Regions from separate parts of the Homo sapiens genome. Here region 1 is reported to be linked to region 2. The links are microRNA targets in miRTarBase. Many come from high-throughput screens and were not tested one by one. Region 2 holds a microRNA gene; the other region holds the end of a gene's coding sequence.

Region 1 (3,405 bases), not on the chromosome of region 2:
ATACGATAAACACGTTAGATTTTTCACAACACATCTCAGAAAAGCTTAAACTCCAAAGATCTTACCTGTTTGCTCCTTTCAAGAGTTATCAGTTTCTGGTTGACCTTTGATGGTTTTTAAGGAGTTTATGATAAACCTGAATATTTAGTATGATAGAGCATGAGCCAGATTAAATGCTTAACCTAATTTGCTGTACATATTTGCCAGTGGTTAAAAAATTTAAGGGTTTTTGGATTCTTGTGCGATGATGGCTTAAAAACTAGTAAAATAATGCCCAAGTGGCAGAGAAGGAGGACTCTCAGTACTGGGTTAGGAATTTTATTACTTAGGGGAGTTTATGGTAAACCAGCAAGTTAGAAAAGGGGGGCATGCTTTAAGCATAAGCTCTTAATGTGAAAGAGACAGTGAAGGTTAATTTGTGAACTGTGAGTACGAGATACTTTAAACAAAGTGAGAAAGAGAAAGCAAAACCTGAAAGATAAATTCCAGGTTTTTGTTATTCCTGTGGCTAACCTTTTTTTTTTTTTTCCCAAGCCCTTGATGTTAAAGAGAGGTTAATGAGTTGCCCAGTTGACATTAAAGAATTTTCCCTGGAGTTCTTGGGTCAGGGTGAATCAATGTGGCACAAAGGGGAAAAAACCCAGCCAAGTGATTGTTTTAAGTGACTTACTGTTTCTACATAGTTAGAGTAATAAAAACAGAATTGACTAGTTGTATGCGTGACCTTAGGTACATAGTTCTCAGAGGGAGATGTTAATACTAAAAAAATTCCTTGAAAATCATACCTCAAAACTGCCAACTTTGGGGTAGTGGGTGCAGCTGGGGCAAGGAGACTAGAGAAGAGTAAAGCAGAATTTTACTGTTCCCATTTGCCAGGCCAAATAGCAAATTGATTTCTCATCATATTTGCATTTACTCAAATTGACTAATTGTATTTTTACAGTATTTTGGAAACTTGTTCATTAGCAGTTAGATACTGAATTTAGCTTCAGACATAGGTGGACCTAGAATATAATCAAAACTGCCTTAATTTACTAAGGCTTTGTAACAGAAGAACGTCTCTTGTGACTGTTAAGGTCTAAATTGCTGGAGTGAGCAGACAAGGACAAATTAATGTATGCAGTGGGTGTTAAATGTTGACCTAAAGAAAGAATAGGTATAAATAGGTGCATATTTAAGTTTTCTTCCTCAGATGTTTAAAATACACTGAACAAGTCTCAAGAACAGAGTTCATTTCCCAAAGTGTCAAATTATCCAAGTCAGATCTAGTAATTAACCCTAGCCCAAAAGGGTGCTATATAAAACAATTTAAACTCATTCAGTATTCTGAATTGTTGCTTTACTTACAGTATAGCAACTTCTATTCACAGAGTTGAGTCTAGCTTTCCTTCATCCTGTGATCTTTCCATGAGATGAGGTTTTGGAAATTACTTTTATTTTTATTTTTATTATTTTTTTTTATTTTGAGAGACAGTCTTGCCCTGTCCCCCAGGCTGGAGTGCAATGGCACGATCTTGGCTCATTGCAACCTCTGCCTCTCGGGTTCAAGCGATTCTCCTGCCTCGGCCTCCTGAGTAGCTGGGATTACAGGTGCCCACCACCATGCCCGGCTAACTTTTGTATTTTTAGTAGAGATGGGGTTTTGCCATGTTGGCCAGGCTAGTCTCGAACTCCTAACCTCAGGTGATCCACCTGCCTTGGCCTCCCAAAGTGCTGGGATTACAGGCGGTGCCACCGTGCCTGGCCGGAAATTACATTATTTTAAAAAATCAGATCTAGTAAAAGATCACAAATTAGATATTCTATAGGTGATTTTTTGTTGTTAGAAAAATGAAGGGCTTGATCCTCTTTAAGAGTCTGTGTTGTAACTGGCTTAGACAAGCACTACTTACCCTATTGTGTTTTCTTTCCATTTTAGAACCACCCTGACCTAAAGGAGAAGGCACCTTATTAGAAGTGACAGAATATATATTATCTATCACTGACTACCCAGTTTAAAGAAGGGTGTTAAATCTCTGCTGTAGAGTCTAACAAAACAAAGTTTTGCTTTTGCTTTTTTTTTTTTTTTTGGACACAGTCTTGCTGTTGTCGCCTAGGCTGGAGTGCAGTGGCGCAATTTTGGCCTACTGTAACCTGTTTCCTGGGTTCAAACTTCTGCCTCAGCCTCCCAAGTAGCTGGGATTACAGGTGCCACTGTCACCACGCCTGGCTAATTTTTTGTATTTTTAGTAGAGACATGGTTTCACCATGTTGGCCAGGCTGGTCTCGAACTCCTCACCTCAGGTGATCTCCCCGCCTCGGCCTCCCAAAGTGCTGAGATTACAGGTGTGAGCCACAGCGTCCAGCCCCAGAGTTTTACTTCTTAAAAATAATTTATTGTACCACAAGTAGCTATTGGTAGAGATGAAAGCTAAAGCAGAATGATGGAATACAGTTGATGAAACTTTAAGAAGCAATGTAGCATGTAATCCTCATAGCTTACTGTCAGGATGAAGCCTTTATGTTTACATCCAAGAACTGAGTTCACTGATGTCAACACCTAAGGGAATGTTCTTTGAACCACACAGCAGAGACAATTGTCATCACCTTGGTTACAGCTGTATCTCAGATTGTCTTTCTATAATACAGGTATATCTCCTGTAAGTTACCAGCATATGGAACTGGGATGAATTTTTAAACTGTCTATCATGCAGACAGATCAGTTTAGCTAACAACTCTCTTGCCTTTCTTTAATGGTATGTGTTGTAAGTTTTTTGCTTTCCAAAACTTTCTTCTCTTCTGCCTTTGAAAAATGGCAATTGATAAGAGTAGAACCAGGGTGGAGAAGAAGCAACAACCCAGGAATATCAGTGGTTTCTTCTGCACAAGGAATAAGCAGACAGTGCACTCTGTATTTTCTTGGGTCTGACTGCATCTAGAACTACTGTTCTCAAAAGGGAAGCCCCTGCTGCTGATCACTTTGTTGTAAAATTGTATTGAGGATTTAGCTTTAAAATCAGATGTGAAGAATCCAAATCTGGGTTTAGATTTCTCTTCAGCCAGTTTGAATGCATAATAGCCTTTGATTCTGACTTTATCAATCAGGTATGCTGAAAAAGATAAGAAATTAACATTAATCACAAATGGACTATGAAGTATCTTTGAGGAAGAATTTAGTTTTCATTGAAACAAGCTAAAATTATGCCCATAATAAAGGTAGTGATTTTTATTAGAGGGTTTTTTTTGACATTTATTCTTTTATGATCTATGTAAAGGAGAAGGTGAAAATATGTATAATTTAAGTCTGAAAAATTTGTAGTGAAACTTGATCCATAAATAATCCAAAAACTCTTGGAGGAAAAAGCAAATTTAAGGAGCAGAGCAATGAAGGTTGTCACTTTTGTTTAAAGGGTCACAAGCAGAAAA
Region 2 (3,362 bases):
CTTTATGTTGAGGCAGTGGGCGCATATTCCTGATATACATATTTCCTGATCTCCTGAGCTCACACCAACAGCCTGGGATTAATCGCCCAACACCAGATAACACGTTATAAAGCTCACTTATCAGCTGGGCCTCACAGGTCTGCTCCAGCCTCATCACCCGAAAAGGCATTTAGCCAGCCCTGCTACTTGGAGCTTCTTATCACATCTGAAATCACCTGGGTGGCACTCATCAGAGTGCAGACCATTTATGGGCAGCTATAAAGGAACTGGATCCCCGAGCCAGGGGTGCAAAGACACTCAGACACCAGCTCTCCCTCCCCGGCCGGGGCTGGGCCTTCTGATCCCCGTGGTCCACACACATCCAATGAGTGGCTATTTAGTGTCAGGGAAGCCCTTCCGCCACTCACGCAGAATCAGACAGGAGGTGGGGCGGGGATGCAGTCGGGCAGGTGGACCTGAGCCCCCATGGGACCTACACTTCTAATGGAGTTGGGTGCGGGATGGGCTCAGAAGAGAGGGAGAGTGGTCCGGGCGGCGGGGGACTCTGCAAAGAGGAGTGGTTTGGAAACTCCTGCCTGGAAGCCGAGGAGACAAAAGACCCCTGTGGGAAGGACTCGTTACCTCGCTCCTGGGCTCCGGGGGGCTTTTCACGTCCAGATCATGAGCAGTTTCTTTCACTTCGTCATCAGGCTTTTCACACAGGTCCTCGGTTTCAGAAGTAATTTCTTGTGGGGAAGAAAGGGGACATGTCACTCGGATGATGACTTCTGCGTACACACGCGTTCCATATAAACGCAGGGCCCCCACGAGCTGGGGGATTTCTCACACGCCTCGGCCCAGCCTGAGCTCACCAGGCAAGCCCAGGGGCCCTACATGGACAATTTGCTGGCCAAACCCAGGCCCCCCCATCGGTAATCATTTGAAGGCCTCACCAGACTCAAGGCGGAAGCCTTCCCCGGGGGAGCGCCACCTGCCAGTCACAGGGAGCAGAGCTGCCAGCACCTGGCGGATGAGCTCCCCATTCAGCCCGTTTCCTGCCGTAAGCTTTAAATGCAGCAGTTTCCATCTCATCAGGGTGACTTTCCTATGCCAGAGACACATCTGTCCCAGGAAGTCAACTCCTCAAGAGAAGGGCGACGCCGCCGGCCACCGGCCAGGTAAGTCCCCGGGAAGAGCATGGCTGCACCTGAACTTCAGGCTCCCATACAGACTCCTCTGGGTGGCAAGCCCAACCCTGGTGGGGAGCAGGGGGCGGATGGTTGGAGGCAACTCAGTTCCAGCTGCCGTGGCCGAGCCGTGAGTACCAGAGGCCGCAGGCAGGTGCTGGGTCCAACCTATCTGTGCAGGGCTCATTTCGGCCCACCTGTTACACGCCTTGTTTCTCACCCAGGCCTGGTCCCTCACCCTGTCCTGTCTGTCACCTCTGTCTCCTGTGACACCCACAGAATGTGGCGGGGAGACCCCGGGGTGCTCACCTTGGAAGGTGGGCCTAACTCGCGGATCCCCCTGCCAGCACCGCTGCATGAGGCGTATCAGGTGGCTGCAGGCGCGCGGCCGGGCTCTGCACACGGGCGGCAGCTCGGGGCGGTGGCCCTTCACCACCTTCACCATGATGTGCAGGATGTTCTTCTCATCTGCCAAGGGAAGGATGCGAGTCAGGGGCTCTGCAGGGCTGGGTGGCAGCATCTCACCCTTGGGAGGAAACGACACACTCGCCGGGGGCCACAATGGGGCCATCCCCACACCACCCCAGGGAGACGGCTCCCCCACTCCGTTTCAAAGGCAGAGCTTCCTGTAACCCTCACCCTCATGGTGCGCCATGCTCTCTAGTTTCCTGGTTTTGAAATCGACCTCTTTCCCTGGGTTCTGATCTACCAGAAGGAGTCAGTGTGTTTGGTCACAGAGCAGATCTTTCTAGGCATCCCATCCAAAGGAAGATGAGGTTCAAAGGAGAACAATATCTTATGAGGCTCATTCCATCAACAGCCCAAGCCAGCAAAGGGAATGAGGCTCACGCACCATGGAGGAGCCACAGCGTCCTACATCCACAGAGACCCAACTCTCTCTACAATGGCGAAGAAGTCTTCCTCAGTTCCAACTCCAATCCCAAGCTCAGGTCCCCAGCTGGCCTCCCCTGCCGGTGCACCAGGGCTGGGATGTGTGGAAGGGCTCTTTCCCCTCAATTCACCATGTGGGGCCGCACCTGTCCTTTCCAACTGCCTTCACTAGCATGCATGGGCTCTAGCTTATTATTATTATTGCCACAACTTCTACCCTGACTGGGAAGGGCCCAGGGTGACATCCAGTGGGCCAAGTTCTTTTTTCTGCTTAGCCTGGAACCCTCAAGGTTCTTGTTCCCAACAGCCCTCTCTGCCCTCCAGATCCAAACACACCCACGCATGGAATGGCAGCTCTTTGGAGAGGCCATGTGCCTCAGCAGGTGTGGAAAATCAGCCGAGAATCACCCACGGCTGCCAGGATTCCATACAATGTTTTGCTCCACTTTCCCATTAAATCTTGTGCAATAAATATCGTTAAGTGTTTAGCAGGCTATTTCCATGATTATTCAGACTTCAAAACCAACAGCTCCTCTAAATAAAATGGAAGCAAACTGAAGTAAACGCCCGGAATGTTTCCTGCTGCCAAGCACAGACTGGAAAAGCTGGGGAGAGGCCTTGTTCTCCTGCACCTTGAACCCCCTCCTACCCATTTTTGCCTGAGGTTGCAATTTTTTGAATTTGAAAAATCAGACCTTGGCGATGACCTTGAACAGTAGGACACGAATAATTCCCATATGATTAGCGTTCCAATAAGGGAACACTAGGCATATTCAGCAATAAAGCACAAGGGCTTGAGCCTTGACCTGTCCCCTGCGCCTAGCTTCGGGTGTCACATCTATCAGACACTGCCTCATTTCACAAGCCTTCGGGCTGTAGGCCACTGTGCGGGAGAACGTACAGAAGGCAAGAAAGGCGACAGGCGGTCAGACAACACAGACGGACACCGGCCAGCAGAGGCCTGGCAGGACGCGTTCTGTGCTTTCTACTGACATTCTTTTAAAGCTGCCAAGATACTTGATCTTGCGATGCTGGAAGATCTCTTCTCACCCCAGCACTTTCCCATACATCGGCTCCTAGTCTGAGCCCCGACTAACAAGGGGCTAGGCCTTGACTCTCATCTTCATTTTTAGACATTTTCGGTCACACCACAAAATATCATGAGTAGCCCAGAAATGTCTTTAGAGGAAAAGGGAATCTGTCCAACAAAGCTAAAAAGTCCTGGATTTTTATGATAAGTAAGTCAAGGTGTGACAACTTTGAGGATGGTGTTCGGAATGGTGGCTGCCTGGCTGGGGAAGCAAA

What was found. Region 2 holds the annotated microRNA hsa-miR-6814-5p (UCCCAAGGGUGAGAUGCUGCCA, at 1,678-1,699, opposite strand). A microRNA usually pairs through its seed, bases 2 to 8, with sites in the 3' UTR of a target mRNA and lowers its output. Matches are read on the target gene's strand: a 7mer-m8 pairs with bases 2 to 8, a 7mer-A1 pairs with bases 2 to 7 and ends in A, and an 8mer does both.
Region 1: the mRNA of KLB is a reported target of hsa-miR-6814-5p. Seed matches in the 3' UTR shown: 7mer-A1 at 2,166-2,172 and 7mer-A1 at 528-534.

The regions. Positions count from the first base shown.
Region 1 is chr4:39,447,985-39,451,389 of GRCh38, reverse strand. KLB (klotho beta) reads right to left here. Exons shown (of 5, transcript NM_175737.4): 5 at 1-3,089. The coding sequence ends at 2,704. Among named protein-coding and RNA genes, the nearest start is that of RPL9, 9.2 kb to the left of the region's middle.
Region 2 is chr21:41,745,138-41,748,499 of GRCh38, forward strand. MIR6814 (microRNA 6814) reads right to left here and starts at 1,704; the gene lies at 1,635-1,704. RIPK4 (receptor interacting serine/threonine kinase 4) reads right to left here. Exons shown (of 8, transcript NM_020639.3): 5 at 1,476-1,634; 6 at 622-725.